Linked DNA regions of Homo sapiens. The protein of the gene in region 1 purifies or fractionates together with the protein of each later gene. This does not show direct contact. Each region holds a gene or a part of one and is shown in the gene's direction. Other genes may lie near its edges.

Region 1 (4,311 bases):
ACACCAGGTAAAGAGCTGGGGTCTCTCCATTCTTTCTTGGTTTCTGGAAAGTGATCAGATGACCTACTTTTGTAAGATCAGGAATGTTGATGGCTCTTTTTCTTTTATATTTTTGTTATTCCCTTTTTTCCATACATACATGATTTCCTTACATATATGATTATTTTGATTTTATACCTAATGCTCTTCAGGAGTTGAAAAAGGATAACAAGGAAAGTGTGTGTGCACGCATGTGTGCATGTGTGTGTGTGTGTATGAAGTTTTTGGGGTTTGTTTGTTTGTTTAAATCAGGTACCTTTCAAATGCTTAGGTCATCCAAGCCATGCAGAGAAGATCTGGTGGCCTTATGCACAGAGATGACACTGTTAACAAAGATCTTTTGGTTGAAGACTATGGAAACCCACCCAAAGTAGTAAGGAAAGAAAGAGAAAAAGAAGGAAAGAAAGAAAAAGGAAGGAAGGAAGGAAGATGGTTTCTCATGGAAGTGGAAAATTATCGGAACCAAGGCATTGTTTTGAGTTCAAGTCAAAGTCAATCTGCTTCTCTCTGCACATCAACAACATTCTGCAGACTGACTTTTAGTGCCTTGGCATGCATGTTGCCAAACATGACCGCCTCACAATTTCTTAGTTTAGAGGGATAATAGGGACTATTTCCTAATCCAAACTTTCAGGAAAGAGAACCTGCTAAGTTGTGTAAAAAACCTAATGGCTGGGTGAGTATAGGAAAATTGCTTAAACTCACATTTGCTTGGTATCCTTATTCTTGCCCTATCACTAAAGCAGGGTCATGTAATAGAAATATGGCTTTGGAGGCCCATCGCTGTGGCAGTTTTCAGAAAGGGAAGATTAAGTGTTGGTAGAGACCACAAATTGTGTCTACTCTAATCCTCTATTAATAGAACATCATGATGATAATAGTAGTTACTAATTATTAAGCCATAATATGCCTAGACACTGTGCCAAGTACATTGTATGTGTGGTCTCATTTATTCCTTAAGTCAAGCTTGCAAGGGATTTATTACATCTATTCTACATATGAGAAACTGGAGAGGCAGAGAGATTAAGAAATGTACCCAAGTTCACGTAGCTTGTAAGTGGCAGAGGGTAGGATTCAAACCCAGATGTGTTTAGTTTCAAATCCAAGTATATCTAGCACTTATATTCATAACATGGCTGGCTTGCAATAATCCATTCAAATTCAAATACATATCTACATACATAACAGATGACAGAATGTGTGTGTAAAAGGTTTTTTCCCAAAAATAATCAGATGCCTTTCAAATTATTAAGTAACATGCAGCTAAGGGCCCATTTTTACTGGCAACTTTAAGGGCATTCGTTGATTCTAATCAGCCAGGATTTGCTATTTATGGATGTTGCACAATTCAACTAAAAGTCACATTTGTCCAAAAAATATACGAGTTGAAGCAATTCATTAGAGAGCTAATATTGCCAGATTGCAAGGGGAAAAACATAAAATAGTTCATTGACAAATCTGTACCCTCAGTGCCAACGATGGAGTGAAGAAATGATGGAGGAGGAAGTGGTTTTAGACTGCCAAGTGTTGCAGGATGTGGAGGCATCTGGGAAGGTGAGAACTTCCCAAAGAAGCCACGTGAAATCATGACTTTCTACCTTGCCTTTATTTCAGAGTTTTTCTTGCTCTTATGGAGGCATTGTAGGTCGACCTGGTAAGCCACAAACTAACTTTGAATACATTCTCCCTCCCATTGGTGATGCTGGTTGGTGTGTATTCCTAGGCAAATGTGGAATAGGAACCATGTATTGATATTTCATACATCTGGCCAAGTCCCTCTTTCAGATTCAAAAAATGTTGAGAACCTATCTTTTTTACAGAGATAGAGAAGGGGATCTCCCTTGTTCCCTTTCTTACTGTCCCAGCCCCTCTTGTATAACCCATTTTATCCAGAACTGTGCCTGGCTGCTGATGCATGAGTCACAGTCTTCATGGACTGTGCTGGATAGAGCTTACATCTTCCAACTACTCCATGGCAACCTAATCATACTTTTCAATACATACCTCTGCATCAGTGGTGTAAAGTTAAAGGGATTCTCTGCCTTCTCCCTGTCCTTCTGGTACTTTTAGGTTTTTAGGACTCAATATATGTTCTGCACTGCTTGGAGGGAATATGGCATAAAGATTAAGATTATGATTTAGAGTCAGATTTGAGTTGAATTCTAATCCCAAGCTTACTTGCTGGGTGAGCATAGACAAACTGCCTGAATTCATATTTTCTTAATTACCCTTTCTGTAAATTGGGTGTAGTAATAATAATAACACCTATTTTATTGAGTTACCATGAGAACTAAAGGAGAAAAAAAGAACTGAGCATAGTGCTTGACATATAGTTAATAAATGTCTAATCTTTTTTTTTTGAGACAGAGTCTCGCTCTGTCCCCCAGGCTGGAGTCCAGTGGCACGATATCGGCTCACAGCAACCTCTGCCTCCTGGGTTCAAGTGATTCTCCTGCCTCAGCCTCCTGAGTAGCTGAGACTACAGGCGTGTGCCACCAAGCCTGGCTAATTTTTTGTGTTTTTAGTAAAGACGGGGTTTCACCGTGTTAGCCAGGATTGTCTCAATCTCCTGACCTCGTAATCCGCCTGCCTCGGTCTCCCAAAGTGTTGGGATTACAGGCGTGAGCCACCGCGCCTGGCCTAATCTTCTTACTCTTTTTTCTTTCTGGACTACTTTTCTGCAATCTATGATATAGTGTTGGCTGATAGCCTGGTGGCCAGAATTCAGTAGTTCTCATTTGCAGGCCCAGATATAGACCCTCTGAGGTTATCTGGGTCTATATAATCCAGTCACCCCAACTGTTCCCCTGGAAATGGAGTGAGGAGGATTTATTAGTTGCTGCCTGAAGAAAAGGGAAATGCTCCAAAAAATTTGGTTGTTTCCAGACTCAAATAGAGCCTGCCTTTCATTGATTCTGTTGCCCTTAAAGCTTCACGGTGAAGATGCAGTTGCTTCCAAAAGGCTTCTTTCTGGTGCCTAAGCCTCCTTATACTTGCTTCAGAGCCCTTTCCGTGAACCAGCTGTGTATTGCTCTTCTCATCCCAACACTTGCAATGGCTGAATAAAGGAAGTGGGGCCTGCCTTACGCTAATCCTCGTTCATATGTGTTTCTTAAAGTTATTTTTCCTTCACTGATGAATTCCTTTTTTTTTTTTTTTTTTTTGAGACAGTCTCGCTCTGTCGCCCAGGCTGGAGTGCAGTGGCACGATCTCAGCTCACAACAAGCTCTGCCTCCCGGGTTCATGCCACTCTCCTGCCTCAGCCTCCTGAGTAGCTGGGACTACAGGCGCCCGCCACCACTCCCGTCTAATTTTTTGTATTTTTAGTAGAGCCGGGGTTTCACTGTGTTAGCCAGGATGGTCTCAATCTCCTGACCTCGTGATCCGCCCACCTCAGCCTCCCAAAGTGCTGGGATTACAGGCGTGAGCCACTGCGCCTGGCCTCACTGATGAATTCTTTTGCTTTTTAAAGAAACTGTTCATTTATTTTCACAGTCTGCAAAAGCCTAAGATAAAGATGCCACACTCTGAAAGGATCAACAAGGGCATCACCAAGTAATGTTTTCTGCAGGATAAACAAGTCAGGCATTAAATTGGTTAATCCTGATTACTGGCCCCTTTCTCTAGCCTCCCCTCTGTGTGAGCAGACCCGGACCACAGGCTTTCTTATTTCCTTTCAGCTTCCCTTGAGACTGAGCAGAGAGAGAAAATTAGCTAAATCAGGAATGCAGGGAATACAGTTGCAGCCTCTTCTTCAGATGGAGGAATGCGTTTTGGGGGGAGGGACATTAAAGGGCCAGTCGCTCATGTTACAGCTCTTTTTAACTTCATGAGTACTAATGCCCTGAAGAGGTTTTAATGAATGCCCTCTTGTGATCAGTTCCTAGGGCAATCCCAGGTTATAAAAGGACTGCCCCTGCCTGTGAGGGAACTGGCCTGGCTTCAGTGGGCCAGGCTGCTTTGTTATCTGTTATTGGTTTTTCCAGCTCCTCTTTCTACATTTCAAGGGATCTCAGGCCTTACCTAAGGCAACAGTACATTAGTTTTAGAGTGGGAGATGCTCACAGTTTTCAGAAGAGTTCAGAAAGTTTCAAAACACACAGCACTGCAGAAGATAACATTATAGCTTCTCAAGACCCCAGGGGATCTGGGACTAAACAGTGAAAGATTAATTAGGTAGCGGAAGCCACTAAGGCAGTGAGTCTTAGTTAGAGAACTTTGGTTTAGACAATGGTTCTCAAAGGGGCAGCAACACCAACAATACCCGGAAAC
Region 2 (3,044 bases), on another chromosome or scaffold:
TCTGTTTAGGGACAGGGTTAGAGAAAAATGATACGGGTTTTAAGAAGATGCTTGTTGATTCAAATGACTAGATTTCCAATAGTAGAATTCCTGATGAGGAGAGTAGAATGAGGGGTTGTAGCGGAGGAAGCTGAAGTTCTGTGATCACGCTGGGGCACGGGGCACTATCCCGTCCTGGGGCCCGGGCAGGAGGAGGGGGCCAACCCTTCAGCACTCTCAGGACCAGAACAACCTGTGACAGACACACAAAAGGTTCGGCAGCACTGGTTCCGAGGTCAGGGCCCATGTGGCTTCCCTTAGGGCTCATGTACATGCTGCTGAAGCACCTGGTAGACAGGTACAATCTCTACTACGCCTACCTGCCGGCCAAGCTGGACAAGAAGATCCACTCGGGGGCTGTGAACCAGGTGGTGGCCGCGCCCATCCTCTGCCTCTTCTGGCTGCTCTTCTTTTCCACCATGCGCACGGGTGAGGGATCCCTACCCAGGGAACGGGGGGTGGCGAGCAGAGTGGATTCCAGCCAGAGCAGGCCACAGGAGAAGCCGCATGGCTGGGGGTGGCAGGCAAGGGGCCTGGGAGAGGCTGGGGCCAGTCTGTAGCACCTGGGAGAGTGAGGACTGCATTCAGAGGGTATCAGAAGCTGGGGTGGGGAGGCCCACAGGAGATAGCAACCCCATTCTTTGCCCCCCAACACCAGGGTTCCTAGCTCCCACGTCTATGTTCACATTTGTGGTCCTGGTCATCACCATCGTCATCTGTCTCTGCCACGTCTGCTTTGGACACTTCAAATACCTCAGTGCCCACAACTACAAGGTGTGGGGCAAGGGTGGCAGGCGGATGGCTGCGGGCAGGAGCTCAAGGGGAGGAATGCAGAGGGCCACAGGGCTGGCGAGGGCTGAGGGCAGCGCCAACAGGGCCAAGCGGGCGTGGGGTCATGATCAGGGCTGAGGACATGCCCCCACTTCCTGACTCATTCTGGGCCCCTCAAGATTGAGCACACGGAGACAGATACTGTGGACCCCAGAAGCAATGGACGGCCCCCCACTGCTGCTGCTGTCCCCAAATCTGCGGTGAGTGCCCTCAAGGGTTGGGAGGGGCCTCTGACAGACTCAGCCTCAAAGCCCAGTGTTCCCTTAGTCCTGCAGAAAGGGGAACCTGTGCCAGACCCCATGGGGGCGGGAAGAGAGCTGGTCTCCCTGGAGGGCTGCCCCCGCCCCCCAGGGCCCTGCCCACTCTGCTGTCCTACATGCCCTGGTGTTCCCGCAATCCATGAGGGGCAGCTGTTCACCTTGCCCCCATTTCCTCTCCTCCTTCAGAAATACATCGCTCAGGTGCTGCAGGACTCAGAGGTGGACGGGGATGGGGATGGGGCTCCTGGGAGCTCAGGGGATGAGCCCCCATCATCCTCATCCCAAGATGAGGAGTTGCTGATGCCACCCGACGCCCTCACGGACACAGACTTCCAGTCTTGCGAGGACAGCCTCATAGAGAATGAGATTCACCAGTAAGGGGAGGGAGGGGCCCTGGAGGCCACATCCTGCCCCACCCCACCCCCACTCCCACGGACACTAAAACGCTAATAATTTATTAGATCTAAAGCCCCTTCCTCCCCAGCCCCTGCTTTCATTAAGGTATTTAAACTTGGGGGTTTCACTGCTCTCCCCCATGATGGAGGGAGGGAGCCCCCCAACCTCAGTGAGGAGAGCCCCGAGCCGGCCCCGGGGCAAAGAGGGGTGCAGAGGGAGTTCCCCCAGATCAGTACCCCCCACCCCTCCCCAGCTAGTAGCATGACCAGGAGAGGGTTAATGAGAGCCAAGAGGAGTACCTGGTGCACCTGGTGCCGGTGGCTGGAGACCTGGGGGGCAGGTGGATCTGGGGCTGTTCCCCCCCCTCCGTTTTTTCCACCCCACAGTTCCTCCTGGGATCTGGCCCTCCAGGGAAGTGGAGCCTCCAGCCCCTAGGGGATGCATGAGGGGGGAGGGGGTGCTGAGTGGGAGGAAGAGTCAGGCTCACAGCTGGGGTGGCCTGGGGGTGGGGGTGGGCAAGGCTGACACTGGAAAATGGGTTTTTGCACTGTTTTTTTTTTGGTTTTTTTGTTCTTTTTTGTTTTTTTCCTTTAAAATAAAAACAAAGAAAAGCTCTGAGGCAGGTGTCTGACTTGTGCTGCCCTGGGCACCTGGGCCGGGTCCCCACCCTCCTATCTGGAGGGCCTCTTTGAGGTCCCTGCATGACGCTGGGCAAGGGACTTGTTCAGAGTCTCATTTCTGTGTCACTGAGAGGAGAGAGTGGGGCTGGGGAGAGACTTAAGGGATATCTCAGAGGCAGGAAGGGCCCCTGTGCCCAGGTGGCCACCATACCAGCCTCGCCCACTCTGATCATTCCCCTGAGTCCCTGAGCAACACACATGGGACAGAGATTCAGGGAGAAAAGGTCGTGCAAAGCCACAGGGTCCATGCTGGGCCAGGACGAAGGCCCTTCTGAGCACCTCAAAGTAAGCCTGGCGCCAGCCCATCTGTCCCTTCCCCAGGAGGGCCTGATCTCCTCAATGAGAAGCCCCCTCCCACCCTCCAGTCAAATCTTACCCATTCTCCAAGACCCAGCTCAAATTCACCTTCTCGCCAGGCGCGGTGGCTCACGCCTGTAATCCCAGTACTTTGGGAGGCCAAGGTGGGTGGATCACTTGAGTTCAGGAGTTCGAGACCAGCCTGGCCAACATGATGAAACCCCATCTCTACAAAAAATACAGAAATTAGCTGGGCATGGTGGTGCACCCCTGTAATCCCAGCTACTTGGGAGGCTGAGGCATGAGAATCACTTGAACCTGGGAGGTGGAGGCTGCAGTGAGCTGAGATCATGCCACTGCACTCCAGCCTGGGCGACAGGGCAAGACCCTGTCTCAAAAAAAAACAAAAAAAAATCACCTCGAAAAAAGGTCCTGTGACTGCTGTAGCCCACCCTGCAAAGGCCCACAGAGCCATGTGGTGCACACCCACACACATGCACACACAGCATGTACTGCATGTACTGTAGGAGGCCTGCATTCC
Region 3 (3,190 bases), on another chromosome or scaffold:
ACATTATAAAGCTACATAAATTACAGATGTTTTTCATGTTACTTATTTAAAATTAATAGTTACTTCTAATACATAAAAGGGAACCCTCTGATTGTGTATTCAGTCTATCTTTAAAGTGCTTATTTTCACACTGTAATTGCCCTTGAGTAATTGGAAATGGTGGAGGTAAGTGTTGATTTCTAGGTTGCTCACAACATGGCTACAATATTTCATCATGTTTGGATGCTGTGTGGCTCTGCCCAACATTAAGCATGGCTTTCCTAAACTAAGTAATATTGGCTTTACTCTGACCAAGGAGAAATTCTTTAATGGATTTAAATGAGATCCTTTATACATAGATCTCTAGCTTTGCATTAATCTGAGCTTACGCTTTAACAAGTTATGAATCTCTCATTACTAGTTGCTTTTCTTGTGGAAAAAGAGGCATATTAATTTTTTAGTTGATGATGACATTGTGTGTCCTTGTCATCTCATTGTCCACAATGAGCTGAACAATCTTAGTAGAATTGTTTGGCATATTCTGCTTATAATTTACCCTCAGAGCAGAGGGAATAGCTATCTTCAATGAACACTCGTCAATAAACAGTGAGTGCCACTACCCCTCGGTGCCTCAGAGGCTCTCTGCTATTTCCCAGTCAGTTCTGTCAGGGCCCCACCCTTTCAGTCTACATATTATGATTAAGACATTTTCCGTGCCTGTCATGGTGCTGTCTGGTGGAGGATAATTTGGTGTATTCTATTCTTAACTTCTTTTTGGTCCTTATCTTCTGGTTCCCCCCTACATTACAGTGTATATCTAATTGCTTTTCTCCCCCCGTGTTTTCTTTTCAGCTCTTTGCCTTCCCACCTAAACATCAGTTATGAGGACTTTTTCTCTGCCCTTCGTCAATATGCAGCCTGTGAACAGCGTCTGGGAAAGTAGTGGTCATTGGTTGCATAATTTGATTTGAGGCTTGTGGAGGAAAGGAACCAAGTGACTCTGATGTTTACAAAGCACCTATGAAACCCTGTACACACCTAGTTCATAATCCTCATAATTTATCAACAAACACAAAAAAGTGTCTTACTTGAGAGTGAGTGTGTGTGTGTGCGTGTGCACGTGCACACATGTGCACGTTTGTATGTATGGAAATAAACTTATAAATGGGGACGTATTGGAGAAGGAAATACATAGACCTACAACTTTGAGCAAATAGCAGTGATGTTTTAGGAACTGAAATGTCACACTTAAAGTCTTCAGCCCAGCTACTTCCCTATTTTTGTGGGGAGAAGAGGGCCTGATTAGAACTGTTCTGGTTGTGTTTGGCGGGAGGGGAATAATTTTTGTTCAGTCCTTCTTAGTGACCAAACTTTAATTTTTAAGAATAATATATTGACTTACTGAACTGAAGCATTCTGAGTTGAAAGGAGCTCCAGAGGAGTGGAGTTCTGTGTTGCTCACATGTTAAAATCTTGCTCACCTTCAGAGCAGAGGGAATACCTATCTTCAGATATCCGTCCATTTTCATCTCTTAATTGTAGTCAAAAGTATGACTTGAGAGTGTTGCTCTGGTATTCTGGGTTCTGAAGTCTGGTATTCTGGTATTCTGGGTTCAAAAGTATGACTTGAGAGTGTTGCTCTGGTATTCTGAGAGTTGCTCTGTATTCTGGGTTCTGAAGATTATTTGAAAAATAACTCCTACTACATTGAAATGCAGACTTAAAAATTTAAACATTGGATTAGGCAGTCAAAAAAACCAAGCAAGCATAAAAGGTCAATAAGTTGTAATCTTGATAGTAAAGGTGGAAAACTTATTATAAATGGAAAGAAAGTTTTATTTCCTTTTTTGTTTGATGGGCAGTATGCCATATTATACCCAAAGTTCTTTTAAAAAATATTTCCATCAACCATTTTTATTTAAAATAAACATTTGAGGGAAGTTACCAAGGCAGCTTTTTTCCTCAAAAGTAACCTGTTCCTCTTTGGAATAGCACATTTTAGGGGCATGGTTAATACCTGAGATTTTTACTCAGTAAATCCTGATGGTTACTGTGTGTAAAATATCTTTAAGTAGGATTGAAGGCCTCTGTGGGGGAATAAAATATTACCAAAGTCTATAAAAATAAATTTTACATGTTCTCTTTTATGACAGAGAGCAGCACTGGTTCTGTTATTTTTAAAATGAATAATTGATTTCTTGATAGGTGTTTAATATTTCTTCCCTCACTGCTGATTCTTAGATAGAAACCATTCTTTATATTTGATAGACTGCTTTCAGAAAACCCTTATCAACAAGTGTACAATACTTATCTAAAACTATACATTTAGAATGGAGCAGTTTAATACTAGATCTCAGAAGTTTTGAAAAATAGCAAAGAAGACTGGATTTGGAAAGCATGGTCTACAATTGGTTGTTAAATTCTGAAGCTATGAAGAATAAATGTTTCAACTTTGGATTATGAAACCCCATTTATGATTTTTTAAATACACTTGAAATAAAAATGATTAAACTAAATTTTGGTCCAGTGACATTACTTTGCACTGCATAATCCATTATACGTTGTACGACTTTTTTTTTTTGTTTTAATTTATTACTGAGAGTTTTGTGTGAAGCTACAGCATATCTAACCAGAGAATTTCTGATTCCTTATACTGTGATTATATTATATTGAGGCATTTGTAGTGCAGCTGAAGACTGAATTTATGCCTTTTGTAAACATGATAGGTATAAATGTCTTATAAACATTCTGGAGTATGTATAGCTTTAATGAATGAAATTTAATGGACCTGATTAAAATGAAGGGATTTAATCGTTGTTAAAGTTAAGTTAGTCAAATAAATTACCTACTGGAATATAGCCCAAGCCAGTAAAGGTTTAATATTTGCATTTTCGTGCTTTTATTTTCTCCTTCCATTCATAAGTATATACTTGAAAGTACATCTGTAGCCTATGATTTGAGTCTCTTGAAGTTCTAGGAAGAGGCAAACTACAAACTACTAGGATTCTGATTTCAGATGTAGTCATTCCAGAACCTTCTCTTTATGAGTTCACCTGCTAGTACAATCTCCACAACTTGAATGGCATTGGTTGTTCTGTAATTCCTGCCAAAAGCATCACAAGTTGTACATCATCAAGGCTCCCTTTGCACTCCCAAGAAGAACTGGTAATTTTAAACAAAAGTATGTGTCTTTATTTGTATTGGAAAATAC
Region 4 (4,311 bases), on another chromosome or scaffold:
ACTAAAAAGTGACACAAGGTCACGGGGCTCTGTGGCCCCAGCTTCCTCAGACCCCCAGGGTCTCTCCACTCCCAGAGCCCCCTGCCTGAGGGGCCGGAGCCCTGTGGCCAAGGCCTTTCCTCCTGGGCCCATCCTGAGGCCTGCAGGTGGACCCCGGCCCGGCCTCCTCTGAGGGCCGTCTTCCGTGCTGGCTCCGCAGCCCTCTCCTGTGCCCGCACCTGTGCAGATGCTTGTTTTCACCCGGGCGTCTGCAGGCACTTGGTGCCAGGCTCCTCCGGGGCTTTCTCAGAGGCAGCCGAGTGCCAGGCCCTGCACACGACACCCTCACCCGAGCCGGAGAGCTTCACATCTGTGGAAAACTCTAATTAAAGACGTTTTGAGAAACGCTGAACGTCTCCCTTTGTTATTTAGGAACAAAACACTCTTTTAGGAAGCAAGTGCTTATGGCTTCTTTCTTGAGATTCTGAGTAAAGGGGCGTTAAGCTTGCTAGCTGGGGCATGCTGAGCACTTCCCAGGTTATGGCTTTACCCCAGAGCGATTGACAGGCATCCAGGTTTCCTCATGCTTCATTTTCCCCTGTTTTCTAAGGTTAAAACTGAGAGCTGTTTCTCCAATGCAAAGCTGCTTGTTTAAGGGTTTCGTATTTGATGTTGGAAATGCTCTGGACTCTTCCATGGTTTTTATATTCCAGTGATTTCACTGCAAACCTGGTGTGTACGCCTTGTAAATTTTGACCCTGGCCAAGTGAAAGGTTCATTTTAAAAGTTTTAAAATAAATTTTAAAGGGGAGCTGGAAGTGGAATAAGTTAAGAACAGTATCAGTTTTGCCTTTCACTCTGACAGAGGCACTCTCTGCTCTGACTGACGGGTGTTGATTAAAAGTATAATATTCAAAAGAAATAGTAAAGTGCATTGGGCCTTGTTAATGTTCTACTAATTTTCTGGGGCTCCGTTTTCAAATTATAGGTGAAATTTTTTTCCTTCCAGTGTTAGTGCCTATGATAAGAAAATACATTTTCTCCACATCTGTCCACAAACCTGCTAGACCCTGTTTTGTGACTACCTCCCCTTGGAACTTGGGGCTCCATGGAAAACACACAGCTTGACCCAGCCAGCCCTCAGAGAGCCTGGGCCGGTCACTGCAGTGGCTGGATTCTCAGCATAAAAAGGCCAAACGTTCGGCCAGGCTGGGACTGGCTCCCATCCAGGACCAACTGTCCACAGTACAGTAAGGCCACTCTCTGAGTCAACATTGTTTCTTTTCTGAATTGCTAAGTTGACCGTCCCTGCAGAAGCAGAGAGGGCTGCGGTGTGGCATTCCTGCCCACTCCAAATGAGGGCAGCCCGGACGCGGGAGCTCTCAGGGAGGCGCAGTGGGCTTTGGGTGTGTCTGGACTGTCTCCACCACACCTGGAAGATACTGTTCACTTCCTTTTTACACTTGTGGGAAATACATGACAGTGTTTACGGGCAGGCTGGCTTTCCGTTTATTTCAACCCTGACAATTGAATAGCAGCAGCAGATGATGAAACTGTTCACTTCCCGATCACTCCCGTTCTCAGATCCATCACTTAGCTCGTCCGTCGCTCAGCTCGTCTGTTAGTCTGAAAGATGAATCGTGCACGGGTCCTCCTGAGAGTGCTGTTCTCGGGGTCTCCATGTGTGAAGTTGTTACATCCTCATGACAACTGTGTAACAGCTGTCACTGAGCCATTTTACAGATGTGGAAACTGAGGCCCTGAGAGGCTGTGGAGGGCTACAGTGTGTCCTGGGCATTTGAGCCCCACACTCTGTCATTAACTCCTGTGCTCGCTGGGACTGGGGGAGAGCAGGACGCGGCAGCACCCCCGGCCCCACTGTGTGCTCCTCTGTGTGCAGGCGACTGTGAGCATACTGGCACCCATGTGAGGGCTGAGTGGTGCTGGTGTGGGCGCATAAAGCACAGGGCGGCTGCGGGGAGCTGGGTGTGTGTCAGTGGCTCGGAGCATTAGTCTCGTGAACATGGTCTGCCAGGTGCGTCATGCTGGGCTACAGAGCCCATGGCTCCACCATAAATGGTGGTTTTGTGTTTGAACTTGAGTGTTGCTGCTCAGTGAGGCCAGAGGAAGGCACCAACCTGCAGGCCTGGCCGGTCCTCACAACACGGAAGGCAACCAGTCCACTAGAGAGACATGTGTCCCGGCCACTGGAGGAGTCCAAGTGACCTTTAAGTCTCACCAGTCCTCAGAGCAACCCAGGTGAATTTGGGGCCTGAGCTTGGTCGTCTGGCCGAAGACCAGCTCAACTTGGATAAAGCTGGAGGAGAAGCCTGTCCCTCAGGCAGCTGCCAGGGCATCTGTGATTTCTGCTTGCGTGCACTCTTGGCGACTATTGGTGGTGGTCGCAGTCAGGGCATCTGGTTGCCTTTACTGTCCTTACACCAGCTGGGCAGAGCTCAGGCTGGGAGCCCAGTGGGAGAGGCCGGGGCGTGACTCCCGGCGCAGAAGCGGCAGTGGCACACCGGCGTCCCAAGCACAGCTGTCCCTGCCAGGCCCCTGCGCGTTGGATCTTTGGGTTGAGTCATGCTCGATGGTGCAGCCATCCTTTCAAGGGAACTGAGCTGTCCAGCGTCCCATGGAGCAGCTCCCCGTGGATCCGGAGAGGCCGTAAATAAACCTCCCCATTTGTAAGCCGGGAACACACATGAACTTTGCAATCGTGTTTGTCCTGGGATCATAGAACGTGGTGGCTGGCAAGACCCAGGCATCCTCATCCTGTGCTGCTGTGAACAGAGGCCGGTAGCTTATTGAGGGACCAGTCCCAGTTCGCTTTCTGTGGGGAAGACTCTGATGGAAGCCTAGGCCCCAAACTCCAAGGTTAGCACATCTTCTTGGGGGGATTGACACCTCCAAAGGTGAACTTGGGTCCAAGGCACGTGTGTGCGACCTGAAGCATGGGTGCCGTGTGCAGGAGACGCCCTCACCGGAGATGGGGACCGAGTCCACACGGCTCTAACTGCAGAATCACTGGCCCTGTGCCCACGACTATTTTATTTTGCTGTTTTATATGATCACAAAGTACACTGTCTTGTTTTTCCCAAAGCATTTGCAGTGAGACATCCCACTTCCTCTCCACGGCAGCTGTTGCGGGCACGAGGCTGCTCCCAGGACAGCGATGCCACCGGGGCTGGGGTGGGCACGGAGGAACCCTCTTCCTTCCTCCTCCCCGCCCTCTGCTCCCCCACAGACTGGCCTGTCTTTAGTCAGCACTTTCCCAGGCTCCCTTCTGCCCACCACGTGCAAACAGTGGCGTGTCCTGGGCCTCTCTCCTTGTAGTGTTTCTTGTGGCCAGCATCCCTCCCATCCAACAGCTGTGTGGCTTCCTGACTGGCTTCTCTCAGGGCCCGCAAGGATGCTGCCAAATGGCCAGAGACAGTCACTGCTCTGCACTTCAAAGCAGGCAGCCCTCGGTGGGGCTTGCCCTGAAAGACAGCGGGCCTTCCTCGATGAGAGCCTGTGCTGGCTCAGGGCCTGTGGGGGCTGCAGCTCTGTTCCTTCCCTGCGTCCACGCTCACATGCTGAATGTTGTGCACCACAGGACACCCTGCTGGGGGCTGTCGGGAGCATGCTCTGTGTTTGGGGCAGAGACGGGCAGAGTGAGTCTCAGCATTACTGCCGTGCAGGGTTGAGTCTCAGCATGACTTCCATGCAGGGGGAGTCTCGGCGTCACTGCCATGCGGGGCGAGTCTCGGCGTTACCGCCGTGCAGCTGCTGGAAGCCACTCGAGCTCCTCTGTCTCGTTTGCCATGAAGCCCATGAGAGACACTGATGTGTGTCTCGGGGCTTCTGTGAGAAGAGCTTGGTTACCCACCGGGTCAGGCACCACGTCGGTGCTGTGAGGCATGGAGGGTGCTCACAGCTGTGCAGTCAGCTACAGAGGCCTTTCCCAGCATCCACATCTGACCGGGCAGTCACACCAGGATGAGCTCCCAGGAAGAGGGCTCCCAGCAAGGGAGGGCGCACCTGGGTGTGAGCTTGGAGGAGGGCAGAGGCACCTGTCACCGCTGACCCTGGGTGCAGATGGGCATGCCGGGTATACTGACTGTGCTTTCCTGGGGCCTGTCTCCCTCCAGGTCAGCCTGGGGTCCTCTGGGCTGGGGGCCATGCACTGCCTCCTGTGGGCAGTGGGATCAGCACTTCCACTTTGCTCAGGGCTAGAGCAGGCTGCTGCGGGTGTGAAGACTTAGGAAACGAATTCGGAAGGAAGGAAAGGATTTTGCACTTCCCAAGCTAGAAGAACATGAATAGAGCCGGGCTGCCAGGCCAAGGGTC
Region 5 (4,311 bases), on another chromosome or scaffold:
TGTTCCCAGATTTTCACCAGAGACATTGTCTCAGCAGCAGATACAACCAGCAACATGAGATGACTCTTGTCCCCCTGTGCTTGTCACCCTGGGGCCTGGTCATGACTCTCTGAGTCTTTTAAGGGTGTTAGACTTTGATAGAAGCACAGATTCAGGGCAGGGAGCCGTGGACACTCACCTGGTGGCAGGCACTGTGCGGGGCCTTAGGGCCAAAAGGCTGGATGAGACAGTCCCTCCTCTGGTCTGGAGGAGTCAGACTAACAAAGGCACAGGCCTCAGGAGGGTGAGGTGGGCTGAGATAGGACACACCCAGCCAGAGGAGGCTGTGGGCTGTGCACAGGGCATTGGAGGATGGTGGCCAGTCAGCCACTGCTGCAGACTAGAGCTGCTCCCGCAAAGCAGTTATTTCCACGGGCCGTGCTGGACATTCGAGTCAGATGGGGATAGGATCGAATGTCAGCCTAGATGCTTACCCACCGTGCAGCCCTGGGTAGGTCTCCCAGCCCCTCTACTCATCCACAAACAGGAAAAGCAGTCCCTGTCCCTCTGGGTGGTTGTGCAGGCTTGTCACAGGGAGACCCCTTGAAGAAGAACCAGCCTTGACCTGTGCACACTTTCATTTCTCTGCTGTAGCTGGGGGCTCCTATTTCATGATCTCTCGTTCACTGGGGCCAGAATTTGGAGGTGCTGTGGGCCTGTGCTTCTACCTGGGAACAACATTCGCAGCAGCCATGTACATCCTGGGGGCCATCGAGATCTTGCTGGTGAGTCAGGCTGAGCCCTGGCCAACTCTGGCCATGTCCAAACAGTCCCTTTGGACTCCAAACAGAAGGCTCAGGCTGTTCATCCCCACATGTCTGGCCAAGGCCTGGGTATTATAAAGTAGGAAGCCTCTTCGAGAGACAAAGACCTTTACTCAGGCTGGTCTTCCTTTCACCTCCATGCCAGTTTGGGCCAGGCAAGGCAGAGGCCTGGCTGCCTTCACCTCGGCCCTGGATGTTCCATCCACCTGGGCACCATTGCAGCCATGGCAAGGGTTCCAGGAACTGTTGTATTCAGCTCAGTGACAGATCTTGGTGGTGATGTAGGCTTCCTTCTGGGCTTGTGTGAGCTCTGGCCAGCTCTGTGTCCTCCGGGGCTCTGTGCCAGGGCACTTCAGATCCACCTTCTCCTTGTCCTTCAATCAGGGTAAGCAGCCACAGAACCCTGCTGGAGGTCGGCGCTCCCTCCACGAGCCCCATGGGAGCTCTGTCAGCCTCAGCTTCTCATTCCCCAGTGAACTGCCGTACCAGTGGGAGAAGAGGCAAGGAGCTGCGGGAGGCATGGGGTGACAGGTGCCCGCCCCTGGGGATCCAGAGGGTAGGAGATACCTGGAGGGACTGCCTGGCTGTTCTTGTCTCCAGGTCCTCTACCTGCAGCAGGACCCTGCACCTGAATCTTCTGATTTGGGGGGGCTTTGGCTTGTTTTCATTTCTCATATCCCTTCTACATTCATTATGTGGGATTTGTCCCTTCTCCTGTTTATCTATTCAGCCATGTCATTATATCTGTATGGACTTCTGGATATTTACTTTATTCTTTGGGTTGTAATCCAATACTATCATTATTTATTTTCTTGCTCAAACTGTTCCACTTTGGCTATTTAACGATTCAGGTTGGCATCTATGTTTGGATCCTTTTTGTTTGCTTGTTTTTAAGTAACAGCTTTATTAACATATAATTTACATACCATGCAATTCCCATACCAATTTATATACCATTGAAAGTGTACAATTCAATGTTTTATAGTATATTCACAGAGTTGCGCAGTCAATTCTAGAACATTTTCATCATCCCAAGAACCCCCATTAGCAGTCACTCTCCATTCCCCGCCAGCCCTGGCAACCAGGAATCTGCTTTCTGCCTTGGGATTTGCCTATTCTGGGCATCTCATATAAACAGAATCATATAATATGTGACCTTTTGTGACTGGCTTCTTTTAGGTACTCTTATTTTTTATTTTTATTTATTTATTTGTTTTGAGATGCAGTCTCACTCTGTCGCCCAAGCTGGAGTGCAGTGGCATGATCACAGCTCACTGCAATTTCCGCCTCCTGGGTTCAAGTGATTCTCCTGCCTCAGCCTCCCGAGTAGCTGGGATTACAGGCTCATGCCACCACGCCCAGCTAATTTTTTGTATTTTAGTAGAGATGAGGTTTCACCAAGTTGCCTGGGGTTGTCTCGAACTCTTGAGCTCAGGCAGTCGGCCTCCCAGAGTGCTGGGATTATAGGCATGAGCCATTGCGCCCGGCCTATTCATTTATTTTTTTGAGACAAGGTCTCACTCTGTCACCCAGACTGGAGTGCCGTGGTGTGGTCTCTACTCACTGCAACCACCACCTCCGAGACTGAAGTGATTCTCCTGCCTCAGCCTCCCGAGTAGCTGGGATTACAGGCGTGTGCCACTACTACCAGTTTTTGCACCACTAATTTTTGTATTTTTAGTAGAGATGAGGTTTCACCATGTTGGCCAGGCTGGTCTCAAACTCCTGACCTCAAGTGATCCACCGCCTCAGCCTCCCAAAGTGCTGGGATTACAGGCGTGAGCCACGGCGCTGACCTATTTTTTATTTTTTTTTGAGACGGAGTCCCCCTCTGTCACCCAGGCTGGAGTGCAGTGGTGCGATCTCTGCTCACTGCAACCTCTGCTTCCTGGATTCAGGCGATCCTCCTGCCTCAGCCTCCAGTTGCTGGGATTACAGGCACGTGCCACCACGCCCGGCTAATTTTTAGTAGAGATGGCGTTTCCCCATGTTGGCCAGGCTAGTCATGATCTCCTGACCTCAAGTGATCCCCCACCTCAGCCTCCCAAAGTGCTGGGATTACAGGCGTGAGCCACTGCGCCCGGCCTCTTTTAGGTACTCGTAAAAAGAAAACCAAAACGACAAGTTTCACTTTCCAAATAAGAAATAAAACCCTCCTTATCCATCTTCTTGTTTCAGACCTACATTGCCCCACCAGCTGCCATTTTTTACCCATCGGGTGCTCATGACACGTCGAATGCCACTTTGAACAATATGCGTGTGTATGGGACCATTTTCCTGACCTTCATGACCCTGGTGGTGTTTGTGGGGGTCAAGTATGTGAACAAATTTGCCTCGCTCTTCCTGGCCTGTGTGATCATCTCCATCCTCTCCATCTATGCTGGGGGCATAAAGTCTATATTTGACCCTCCCGTGTTTCCGTAAGTAACCCAGGAATTTATCTGGGCATTGCATGGACATCCCTCCCATGTAGCCAGCCTTTGATGCCCCAGATCCCAGAGACTGCAGGGTGGGCACAGGCAGGGGCTTTGACCTGAGCAGGTGCCGGTGCTTCTGTCCCTCACAGGGTATGCATGCTGGGCAACAGGACCCTGTCCCGGGACCAGTTTGACATCTGTGCCAAGACAGCTGTAGTGGACAATGAGACAGTGGCCACCCAGCTATGGAGTTTCTTCTGCCACAGCCCCAACCTTACGACCGACTCCTGTGACCCCTACTTCATGCTCAACAATGTGACCGAGATCCCTGGCATCCCCGGGGCAGCTGCTGGTGTGCTCCAGGGTGGGTCCTCCCTCCCGTCGTCTTGCTCTTGAGCCCACAGGCTGAGCAGGGGCACAGAGCACAGAGCTGTCCTTGTGTGGCCAGCTTGGGAACGGGGGCAGGACTGGCCGCCTTCCCAGCCCCCCAGTGTCCTCCCAGCCTGGCTCCTGGCAGCCGAGTTTGGAGTGAGTGGAGCCTGTCTGGCCAGCGTCCAAGGCCTGCAGCAGCCTGTCTTCCCCAGCCACCAGCCCCTGACACTGCCTGGGGATGTTCCCACAGGATCCATAAAGGCCTCTGTGGAAGGCGGGCAGTGGCGGGCTCTGGGTGACGGTGGTTCAGCCACCTTTGTCTGTCGACTTCTAGCTGGGCAGCTCCTTCTCTGTGGTCAGGGTAGCCCTGTGGCTGACGCTGCAGTCATTGGGCTGAAGCTGTTCCCTGAGTCCCCAAAGTTGCCCTGCATCTGCGCCTCTGGCTAGGCTGCCCCAAACTACCTGGGGTAGTGGGGGGCAGCTGTGGTGGTGACACAGCTACCCCTGCAGAAAACCTGTGGAGCGCCTACCTGGAGAAGGGTGACATCGTGGAGAAGCATGGGCTGCCCTCCGCAGATGCCCCGAGCCTGAAGGAGAGCCTGCCTCTGTACGTGGTCGCTGACATCGCCACATCCTTCACCGTGCTGGTCGGCATCTTCTTCCCTTCTGTAACAGGTGAGCCCTGCCTGCCTACCCACCCAGCCCTGTCCCCAATCCCG
Region 6 (4,311 bases), on another chromosome or scaffold:
GTGGTGTGATCTCAGCTCACTGCAACCCCTGCCTCCTGTGTTCAAGTGACTCTCCTGCCCTAGTCTACTGAGTAGCAGGGATTACAGGCGCCTGCCACCATGCCCAGCTAATTTTTGTGTTTTTAGTAGAGATGGGGTTTCACCATGTTGGCCAGGCTGGTCTCGAACTCCTGACCTCAAGTGATCCTCCCACCTCGGCCTCCCAAAGTGTTGGGATTACAGGTGTGAGCCACCGAGCCTGGCCCCCCATTCATAATTTCTGAAAGAGAAGTTTACCTACCAAGTAGAGATCTCAGATAGTAACCGAAAACAAAAAGGAAAGCAGAGAGGAAAGAGTTGTAGGAAATATGTTTGCAGATTTTCCCAGCTTAGAGGAGTCAGTAGATACCATTTCAATCTTCTAATTATAAATAAGGAAATTTATATTGAAATTTGAAAAATTTTTTACATGTAATCACATGTTATTCAAAACAGGAAGCATGCTTTCTGAATCATTAAAGAGAATAATTAGAAAAATATATCCTGTATAGAAAAGATAGAAAATAATTTATACAGCATGGAAATCACCTTTACTTAAAAGATTGAAAGAACTTTTAAAATTGTCTTTACTTGGCATATTTCTTGCAAGAAATTTCTTCACAGTGTTTTCAGTCTTTTCTAAATTATCTTGACTTTTATTCTTACCTTACTGAATGTGTTAATCATGAATGGATAACGCATTATAACAAGTACCTTTTTAGGTACAAGATGATATTTTGATGGAAACTTACTCTTCTTGAACATGATGACATTGATGACCTAACACTGAACCATGTTTGCATAACTAAAATAAATCCCACTGGGACTTAGTATATTATTCTTTATAGATTTGATTTACTAGCATTTTAATATTTACAGCTATATAAAAAGATTTGTCTGAGGTTTTCTTTTATGTTTACTGTGGTAGGTTTTAGTGTCAGGGCTAGCACTGTGAAACAATTGAGAAACTCTCTATCTTTCACTTCTTCATATATTCATTGGTTGGGTTCTGGAGCCAGGAAAGGGGGAAGAAATTTTAGTTGTTCTTCTCCTACTTCACTCACCTAGGACTCTGACTAAAATCAATAGTACTATAATTAAATTATATAGTTTACTGCTTAGCTAGGTTTTTTGGGGGACTAGCTTGGGAACCAAATTACCATCTCAGGCCATTTTTTTCCTTTATGAAATATCCTTAGCAAATTCTAAATAATTAATTAAAAGATATGTATTAATTAATTAAAAGATTTCTGTGTATTTCTCTCTCCCATCTTCTTCTTTCACTGCCAGCATGATCAGGTGGCTGTGTATTATACCCTGGCAGCCACCCAGCTAGTGAATTCATTTTGGCTTCTGTTACCTGGTGTTTAATCTGAGTATTTTAAATGCTAAATCTTATTAGTAAACCTGTTGAAAGCTTGGCTCTAGAAACAAAGCCTAACTCATACACTTCTGGTGAGACTTTGATACAACTTTCTGTGTGGCAATTAGGCAATTCTTTACATCATCTGTTTTTTTTTTTTTTTTTGACCCAGCACTTCTGTTCATAGAAGATAAGCTGAAAGAAATCATTGCAGATATATGGGAAGATTTAGTTCCAGTGATGCACAGTTGAAGCATCTTTTATAAATGTAAAGATGTGTAAACAACTTGAATGCTCAGCAGTAGGGAATTAGTTAAATGAATATAGATAATTTAGTAATGGAACATTAAGTAACCATAGAATGTTACTGATAAATATATGTGTGACAGTGAAAGTTGTCTGTCATATATTAAGTGAAAAAAACATTTTACAAAACTTAAAGGCCCCATAAAATCCCATTTTGAAAAATAGGTTTGTAAATGCACGCACACAGCCTGGAATTACACATACTGAAGTAAAGGTAGTGGTGATCTCTTGGGGGCATGAGATTATGGGTAACTGTTTTCTTCTTTTCTGTTAGTGTTATCAGGTTTTCTGGAATGAACATATGTTACTACTGAAATAAGGAAAAAAATCACCCTTTTTTTTAAAAAACAAATGCCAGCACACATACAATATGTAGAAATTAAGAAGTAATGCATAACTAGAAAATCATTCCAAATAAAATGATATGAACATTGAGTTTTTAATTGTGTAGTGCCTACTATCTCTGGGGACACTAAGTCTTAAGCAGAGAAACCAAACCAAATGCAGATCTCCTAGAATCCTCATCTAGAAAGATCCAAGTCTGTTCTTATCACATCTATTTTCAAAAAAAATATTTTGCCCTCGTCATGCTTGAAAGGAGTTCTTTAACTTAAAAATTTTATGTGTTCTAATTATTTCTGTTGGGTTATTTGACAGACCGCCTGGACATTAGGGCAGCCCGGATTCTTCTGGATAATGACCATTACGCCATGGAAAAATTGAAGAAAAGAGTACTGGAATACTTGGCTGTCAGACAGCTCAAAAATAACCTGAAGGGCCCAATCCTATGCTTTGTTGGCCCTCCTGGAGTTGGTAAAACAAGTGTGGGAAGATCAGTGGCCAAGACTCTAGGTCGAGAGTTCCACAGGATTGCACTTGGAGGAGTATGTGATCAGTCTGACATTCGAGGACACAGGTAGAACACTTCTCTCAGTTTAATCTCTGATTCCTCTTTCTTTTTAATTGACTAGAGCTCCCTAAAAGCTTAGGCATAGCATACATCTATTTTCCTTAAAGGGCTATGTGTGGTACCTTGAATGAAAAGGACATTTACAAGAAGTATCAGCTAGCCTAGAGCCTCTAAGCGTAATGATAAACCCAAACTAACCTTGATTTGTATGACAGTGGATACTACTCTGTGCCTCAACTTTCCTGGAATCTCATTTGAATGTAATTATAAGTTATTTATGATTGGATATTATTATGTCTTTACACTCTTTTCAACCCAGTAGCATGCCATAAATAATGATCCCTAACTCTCAGAGTTAAAAAAAGTAACTGCAATAGGGAGGGCCAATAGGAGGAGGTGAGAAGTCTTTGATAACAAACTTGTTCTGATTGCAGTCTAAACTTCCTCTTATGAAGGTTGGTTTGTATTATGAATATGAGTAATAAGGATAAATGTTAGCATAATTATTAAGGCTTATTCTTGCATTTTGGACTCACTTTCTATAAAAAAACAATAAACTGTAAGAACTGTCCCTCTAGGCTGGGCACAGTGGCTCATGCCTGTAATCCTAACACTTTGGGAGGCTGAGGTGGGTGGATTGTTTGAGCCTAACAGTTTGAGACCAGCCGGGGCAACATAGGGAAACACTTTTGTCTCTACAAAATTTATATTTAAATTTTTTAATTTTAAATTTTAATTTTTGTCTCCACAAAAATTAAAAAATTATGCAGGCACAGTGGCATGCACCTGTGGTCCCAGCTACTCAGGAGGCTGAGATGGGAGAATCATTTAGGCCTGGGAAGGTCCAGGCTGCAGTAAGCCATGATTGTCCCACTGCACGCCAGCCTGGAGACAGAGACATTATCTCAAACAAACAAACAAACAAACAACAACAAAACTGTTTCTGATTAATCTGACATTATTAGAATCAGATTTGCATGTTGCATTCATTGTTCTCACTGGTCTCTTTGTTGATCTGATGGAAATTGCCTTGGGAAAGCATGAATTTACATTTCGTGGTTTAAGGGATTCATAGCAATTGTAAGTTGTGAGAAAACATACCTATAGTGTATGTGTTAAAGAACATGTTTAAATGTAGGAACCATGAACTGCTTATAAAAGAATATGATGCTTTTTTAATATCTTGTTTTCTATGTGCCTTATTCAAAGGGATCCCTATCCATAGACAGGGATGGGAAACTGTTTCAGAAACTTTTCTATAAGAAATGGTTATTTTTATTCTCTTTTATTTGCTCACTTAAAATTCTTACGCATTTAAAAAGTATCATTACTGGCCTTGTGTAGTAGCTCATGCCTGTAATCCCAGCACTTTGGGAGGCCAAGGCAGGCAGTTGCTTGAGCTCAGGAGTTCAAGAACAGCCTGGGCAACTTGGTGACACCCCATCTCTAAAAAAATAATAATAATAAATTTTAAAAAAGACTCATCACAAGATTTTAGTAAATAAACAATGAGGCGTGCAGATCAGAGTAGAGAATTGATTTGGGTGATTTCTTCTGGCAATTTCAAAAGATATTTTTGTTGCCTAGACTTCTTATTCTTGCATGTACCACTAGAGGCTATAGTTTGCTTTCGTAAAGGAATTGGCATTTCTCTTGGACCAAACTCAAAGAAGCTGCGTCTAGGGCCTAAATCTTCTAATTTTAGCTACAGAGT
Region 7 (4,311 bases), on another chromosome or scaffold:
TGGTCATCACAAAATGCCTTGATGTTCCTGACCCTTTTGTGCCTGACCCTACTGGGTGAGTGAGTGAGCCCAGACTAGAGGAGGGAGGGGAGCTCTGGTTTGGGGTCCCTTTCCATCTTTTTTTTTTTTTTTTTTTTTTTTGAGACAGAGTTTCTCTCTTGTTGCCCAGGCTGGAGTGCAGTGACATAATCTCAGCTCACTGCAACCTCTGCCTCCCTGGTTCAAGTGATTCTCCTGCCTTCGCCTCCTGAGTAGCTGGGATTACAAGCACCCACCACCACGCCCGACTAAACTTTGTATTTTTCAGTAAAGACAGGGTTTCACCATCTTGGCCAGGCTGATCTCGAACTCATGACCTCAGGTGATACACCCGCCTCAGCCTCCCAAAGTGCTGGGATTACAGGCGTGAGCCACCGCGCCCGGCCCCTTTTCATCTCTTTGGGGTGCTGATGAGGCAGGGACTCAGGAAGAAGCCTCCCTTCTTTTTAACCCCTCATCACTGATTTCTTACTCCTCTCCCTCCTTTCAGAGCAATTTGTGATCTACCAGGTTGGCTTGATCCCCAGTCAGTACTATGGGGTCCTGGGAAACAAAGACTTGGAAGGGTTTAAGACTCTGACATTCCTGGCTGTCATGCTCATTGTTCTGAACTCCACGGTAAGATCTTTCCCTCTCTCTGTGTCTCTCGTCCTCTCCAGTCCAGTGTGACCGTAATGCCTAGTGGAACTTAGCCTCCAGGAAGCAGGAAGCAAGCTGTGGGGGTGTGTTTCCTCCCTTTTCTGGGAACTAAAGGGATAGTTGCCTTTATTAAGCACGTTGATCTTGCTATTGGCCCACGTGGGACTGATTCCTCAGATGTTTCCACTCCTGGGCCCAGGCCACAGGTTCTGGTTTAATTCAGCATTTAGCAGAACTGATCATTGCCCCTTTCCTTCCTAGAACTCTTATTTCCGGCAGCTCATTAAAACGGCTCAGCAGCCAGAGCTGCTGCTCCTCCTCTGCGGGACCGAGGCTGTGACTCACCCTGGCACCATGTCACACCTCCCAGCCTTTGAACAGTGCTTTCTTGCAGAATGGCCTCCTCCCCTACCCCTCATTCAGTAGGGGGGCTACCACCTGCTCACTCTTCGTCATCCCTCCGTTGTCACCTCTTTCAAGTCTTTCTCAGCTTTCTCCTTTGTGTCTCCTCCACCAAACTCTGCCCTTTTTCTGTACTTAACGAATTCCTTGAGTTTACCTCGCTGTAACACTCCTCACACGCTTGTAATTGTTTTCTGGCTAAACTGTGAGCTCATAATGTCCCTAGTGCTTAGCACATAGGTGCCCTGGAAATGGTAAATGATGAGACTCAGGGCTGTACCAGAACTCAAGCCTAATGCTGTCTGCCAGGCTGTGCCACCTGTTTTCTTGGGGAAGCCACTGCTCATCGTACCATGGCCACTTTTGTTGGGTCTTCGGTCAGTAAGCACCTATGCATACAAATCTCTGTCCCAAGCTTGGGGGACAAAGGAGTAAGAACATAAATGGAATCGACAATATGGTCTCCAATCTTCAGAAGCTCATCTACTCTCAAAATAAGACAGTGTAGAAAGAGGGTCTTGCCTCTGGTAAGCCCTTTAATATTTGGTGAAGGAGGCTGGGTACAGTGGCTCACGCCTGTAATCCCAGCACTTTGAGAGGCCGAGGCGGGCGGATCACCTGAGGTCGGGAGTTCCAGACCAGCCTGACCAAGATGGAGAAACCCCGTCTCTACTAAAAATACAAAATTAGCTGGGCGTGGTGGTGCATGCCTGTAATCCCAGCTACTCGGGAGGCTGAGGCAGGAGAATCGCTTGAAACTGGGAGGCGGAGGTTGTGGTGAGCCAAGATCGCGCCATTGCACTCCAGCCTGGGCAACAAGAGTAAAACTCCATCTCAGAGAAAAAAAATTTGGTGAAGGAATGAACACGTGAGTGAGTGAGGAAGGGAAAGTCCCATGACTCGATGATTTAAAAAAGAAAAGTGCTGAGTGGACGGAGTAATCAGAGTCAGAGTGGGCTGGGATGGGTCAGCGGAGGCTCTTGCGAGCCTTGAGCTTTGAGCTGAGATTTTCAGGAAGCCATCTCTCCCTTCCCCTTGCTTCCCCCACTGCACAGCTGAAGAGCTTTGATCAGTTCACCTGCAACCTGCTGTATGTGAGCTGGAGGAAGGACCTCACTGAGCACCTTCACCGCCTCTACTTCCGGGGCCGTGCGTACTACACCCTCAACGTGCTGCGGGATGACATCGATAACCCGTAGGCGCCCCAACTCAGTCCTTTCTACACTCTGTGTGGTCCTTTCCTTCTGGCCTAGCCCTGGAGACTGCTGGTGGCAGACACCAAGGAGATCATCTGCAGTCGTTTTCAAATGCTGCTGCCCAGAGTCATGGGGGAGGGTGCCCTGCAGAGGACTCCTGGAGAAGCTGCAGGGCTGTGAATAGGCAGCTAAAAAGAAGAAGCCTGCCAGGTGCAGTGGCATGCACCTGTAGTCCCAACAACTCAGGAGGCTGAGGCAGGAGGATCACTTGAGCCCAGGAGTAGTGCACCGTGAGCACACTTGGGAATAGCCACTGTACTCTAGCCTGGGCAACATAGCAGAAACCCCCATCTCTTAAAAAAAAGAAAAATGTTAGGAGCAGCTTTCTTTTGTCCTTTTCATACTTTATATCTTAGTCTTCCAGTAAGAAGACTAAGGGGTTTCTTTAGAGGGTTCTAAAGAAAATGTCCTTGCTAGAAAAACCAGCTCTTAGATTTTCATCAGTAAAAAAAATTACCACTATCCAGGACTCAGTCTAGGATTCACATCTCCATTCTATCACCACTCAGGTTATAACTCTTAAAGTCACCAAGCCCCAGGTTCCCCTTCTGTAAAATGAGGACAATAATAGTTCCTATCTCAAAGGGTGTAGTGAGGATGAAATATCATTCATGTAATGCACATGTACAGTGCTTGACACATAGCAAGTGTTTCAGTGTAAGTTAGCTATTGTTATTTTACAGATGAGGAAGCTGAAGCCCAGAGATTGCAAGTGACTTGCCCAAGGTCACGTCACTCATTGGGAATAGGAATCAGTATGGCCCTAGTGGTGAGATGAGACATAGGGGGTCTCCTTCACACCCATCCCCTCACTCACCACCTTCCTAGCAAGCACTTTGTTGGTTGGGGTACCTCTCAGCTCAAGCTTAGCTTTGGTGCAAAGATGCGTGGGAGGCTGCTGCTGCTGCCTAACTTCTAGGCCTCTTTCTGATGGCTATGGCTTCCATCCTGCCTCTGCCCCCTGAGTAGCTGGGACTACAGGTGTGCCTCACAGCCTGGAGCTTTCACAGCCAGATAACTAAAGGGGCCAGGCTAGGGCTTATATAAGAGAAATTTGGGAGGATTGAGATAAAGGGGATAGTCTTCTTGATCATCCAAAACAGCTCATCTACCTTCAAGTTTTTCTTTGGCTCTGCTCAGAGCTGGCTCAGGCCCCTGGGTACTGGACCTTTCAGTTCCCACTTTTTCAGGGGATTAACTAAGGCACCGTAAGATGCAACTCTCTAGAACCCTGTTTAAAGGCCCTGGGATTTAGTTGCCCCTAGGAAACCAGCCTTGTCTGGTTCCCTCTTCCCATAGGGTCAGTGTTCACAGCACTGTGAGGCAAGGTCAAGAGCAGAGGTGATGTGAAAGTTTCTTGTTCTCTCTACCTTTGGGCCCATCTCCCTGGGTCCAGCTACTCTGTGTCATTGGCTCCAGGGACCAGCGCATCAGCCAGGACGTGGAGCGATTCTGCCGGCAGCTCAGCAGCATGGCCAGCAAGCTCATCATCTCCCCGTTCACCCTCGTCTACTACACTTACCAGTGCTTCCAAAGGTGAAGCCTCCCTCCTCCCCAGCCTGGTGTTTCCCCAGAGGGCCCTCAGTCAGCTCTCCCAGGTCAAGGTCCAAGAGAAGCTTATTTCCCCTCTCTCCCACCGTACCTTACCACGTGCTCACCCATCCCACGTGCTCAGGCCCCTGCCCTTCCTTTGGCCCTGTGTTGCAGTGTCACAGATATCCTGGCTCTGAGAGCTCATACCAGATGCCCCCACATAGGAGCAGAGGGCCCATTGGGCCACTCAGATTGGACAGGGGCTACCTGAGAGGGAACAGGAGTCAGGGCTGAGGCATGTGGGGATAGGTGGCACCCCACACCCTCTCCCTTCTCTCCCTCTCTCTCTATTTCAGCACAGGCTGGCTCGGGCCTGTGAGCATCTTCGGGTATTTCATCCTGGGGACCGTGGTGAACAAAACTTTGATGGGCCCCATTGTGA

The links.
Region 2: the proteins of PCDHA3 (region 1) and TMEM63B purify together in Homo sapiens (affinity purification with mass spectrometry; 2 studies listed by BioGRID and IntAct, with this or other methods). This does not show direct contact.
Region 3: the proteins of PCDHA3 (region 1) and NUS1 purify together in Homo sapiens (affinity purification with mass spectrometry; 2 studies listed by BioGRID and IntAct, with this or other methods). This does not show direct contact.
Region 4: the proteins of PCDHA3 (region 1) and GAS6 purify together in Homo sapiens (affinity purification with mass spectrometry; 2 studies listed by BioGRID and IntAct, with this or other methods). This does not show direct contact.
Region 5: the proteins of PCDHA3 (region 1) and SLC12A4 purify together in Homo sapiens (affinity purification with mass spectrometry; 2 studies listed by BioGRID and IntAct, with this or other methods). This does not show direct contact.
Region 6: the proteins of PCDHA3 (region 1) and LONP2 purify together in Homo sapiens (co-immunoprecipitation; 2 studies listed by BioGRID and IntAct, with this or other methods). This does not show direct contact.
Region 7: the proteins of PCDHA3 (region 1) and ABCD4 purify together in Homo sapiens (affinity purification with mass spectrometry; 2 studies listed by BioGRID and IntAct, with this or other methods). This does not show direct contact.

Annotation. Positions count from the first base shown.
Region 1 is NC_000005.10:140,982,557-140,986,867, forward strand, and holds part of PCDHA3 (protocadherin alpha-3 isoform 1 precursor), read left to right. Parts: coding exon 1-7; intron 8-4,311. Other genes in the region: PCDHA1 (protocadherin alpha-1 isoform 1 precursor), read left to right, coding at 1-7; PCDHA2 (protocadherin alpha-2 isoform 1 precursor), read left to right, coding at 1-7; PCDHA4 (protocadherin alpha-4 isoform 1 precursor), read left to right, coding at 1-7; PCDHA5 (protocadherin alpha-5 isoform 1 precursor), read left to right, coding at 1-7; PCDHA6 (protocadherin alpha-6 isoform 1 precursor), read left to right, coding at 1-7; PCDHA7 (protocadherin alpha-7 isoform 1 precursor), read left to right, coding at 1-7; PCDHA8 (protocadherin alpha-8 isoform 1 precursor), read left to right, coding at 1-7; PCDHA9 (protocadherin alpha-9 isoform 1 precursor), read left to right, coding at 1-7; PCDHA10 (protocadherin alpha-10 isoform 1 precursor), read left to right, coding at 1-7; PCDHA11 (protocadherin alpha-11 isoform 1 precursor), read left to right, coding at 1-7; and 4 more. UniProt on the Homo sapiens protein: Potential calcium-dependent cell-adhesion protein. May be involved in the establishment and maintenance of specific neuronal connections in the brain.
Region 2 is NC_000006.12:44,153,376-44,156,419, forward strand, and holds the end of TMEM63B (mechanosensitive cation channel TMEM63B), read left to right. Parts: intron 1-300; coding exon 301-468; exon of another isoform or gene 469-602; intron 603-697; coding exon 698-813; intron 814-989; coding exon 990-1,070; intron 1,071-1,316; coding exon 1,317-1,508; 3' UTR 1,509-2,144; downstream 2,145-3,044. UniProt on the Homo sapiens protein: Mechanosensitive cation channel with low conductance and high activation threshold. Osmosensitive cation channel preferentially activated by hypotonic stress.
Region 3 is NC_000006.12:117,706,094-117,709,283, forward strand, and holds part of NUS1 (dehydrodolichyl diphosphate synthase complex subunit NUS1), read left to right. Parts: intron 1-831; coding exon 832-922; 3' UTR 923-3,190. UniProt on the Homo sapiens protein: With DHDDS, forms the dehydrodolichyl diphosphate synthase (DDS) complex, an essential component of the dolichol monophosphate (Dol-P) biosynthetic machinery.
Region 4 is NC_000013.11:113,853,822-113,858,132, reverse strand, and holds part of GAS6 (growth arrest-specific protein 6 precursor), read left to right. Parts: intron 1-4,311. UniProt on the Homo sapiens protein: Ligand for tyrosine-protein kinase receptors AXL, TYRO3 and MER whose signaling is implicated in cell growth and survival, cell adhesion and cell migration.
Region 5 is NC_000016.10:67,951,096-67,955,406, reverse strand, and holds part of SLC12A4 (solute carrier family 12 member 4), read left to right. Parts: intron 1-633; coding exon 634-764; intron 765-2,981; coding exon 2,982-3,223; intron 3,224-3,369; coding exon 3,370-3,584; intron 3,585-4,102; coding exon 4,103-4,267; intron 4,268-4,311. UniProt on the Homo sapiens protein: Mediates electroneutral potassium-chloride cotransport when activated by cell swelling. May contribute to cell volume homeostasis in single cells. May be involved in the regulation of basolateral Cl(-) exit in NaCl absorbing epithelia.
Region 6 is NC_000016.10:48,267,672-48,271,982, forward strand, and holds part of LONP2 (lon protease homolog 2, peroxisomal), read left to right. Parts: intron 1-2,344; coding exon 2,345-2,603; intron 2,604-4,311. UniProt on the Homo sapiens protein: ATP-dependent serine protease that mediates the selective degradation of misfolded and unassembled polypeptides in the peroxisomal matrix.
Region 7 is NC_000014.9:74,295,894-74,300,204, reverse strand, and holds part of ABCD4 (lysosomal cobalamin transporter ABCD4), read left to right. Parts: coding exon 1-55; intron 56-529; coding exon 530-657; intron 658-2,135; coding exon 2,136-2,275; intron 2,276-3,755; coding exon 3,756-3,872; intron 3,873-4,225; coding exon 4,226-4,311. UniProt on the Homo sapiens protein: Lysosomal membrane protein that transports cobalamin (Vitamin B12) from the lysosomal lumen to the cytosol in an ATP-dependent manner. Targeted by LMBRD1 lysosomal chaperone from the endoplasmic reticulum to the lysosomal membrane.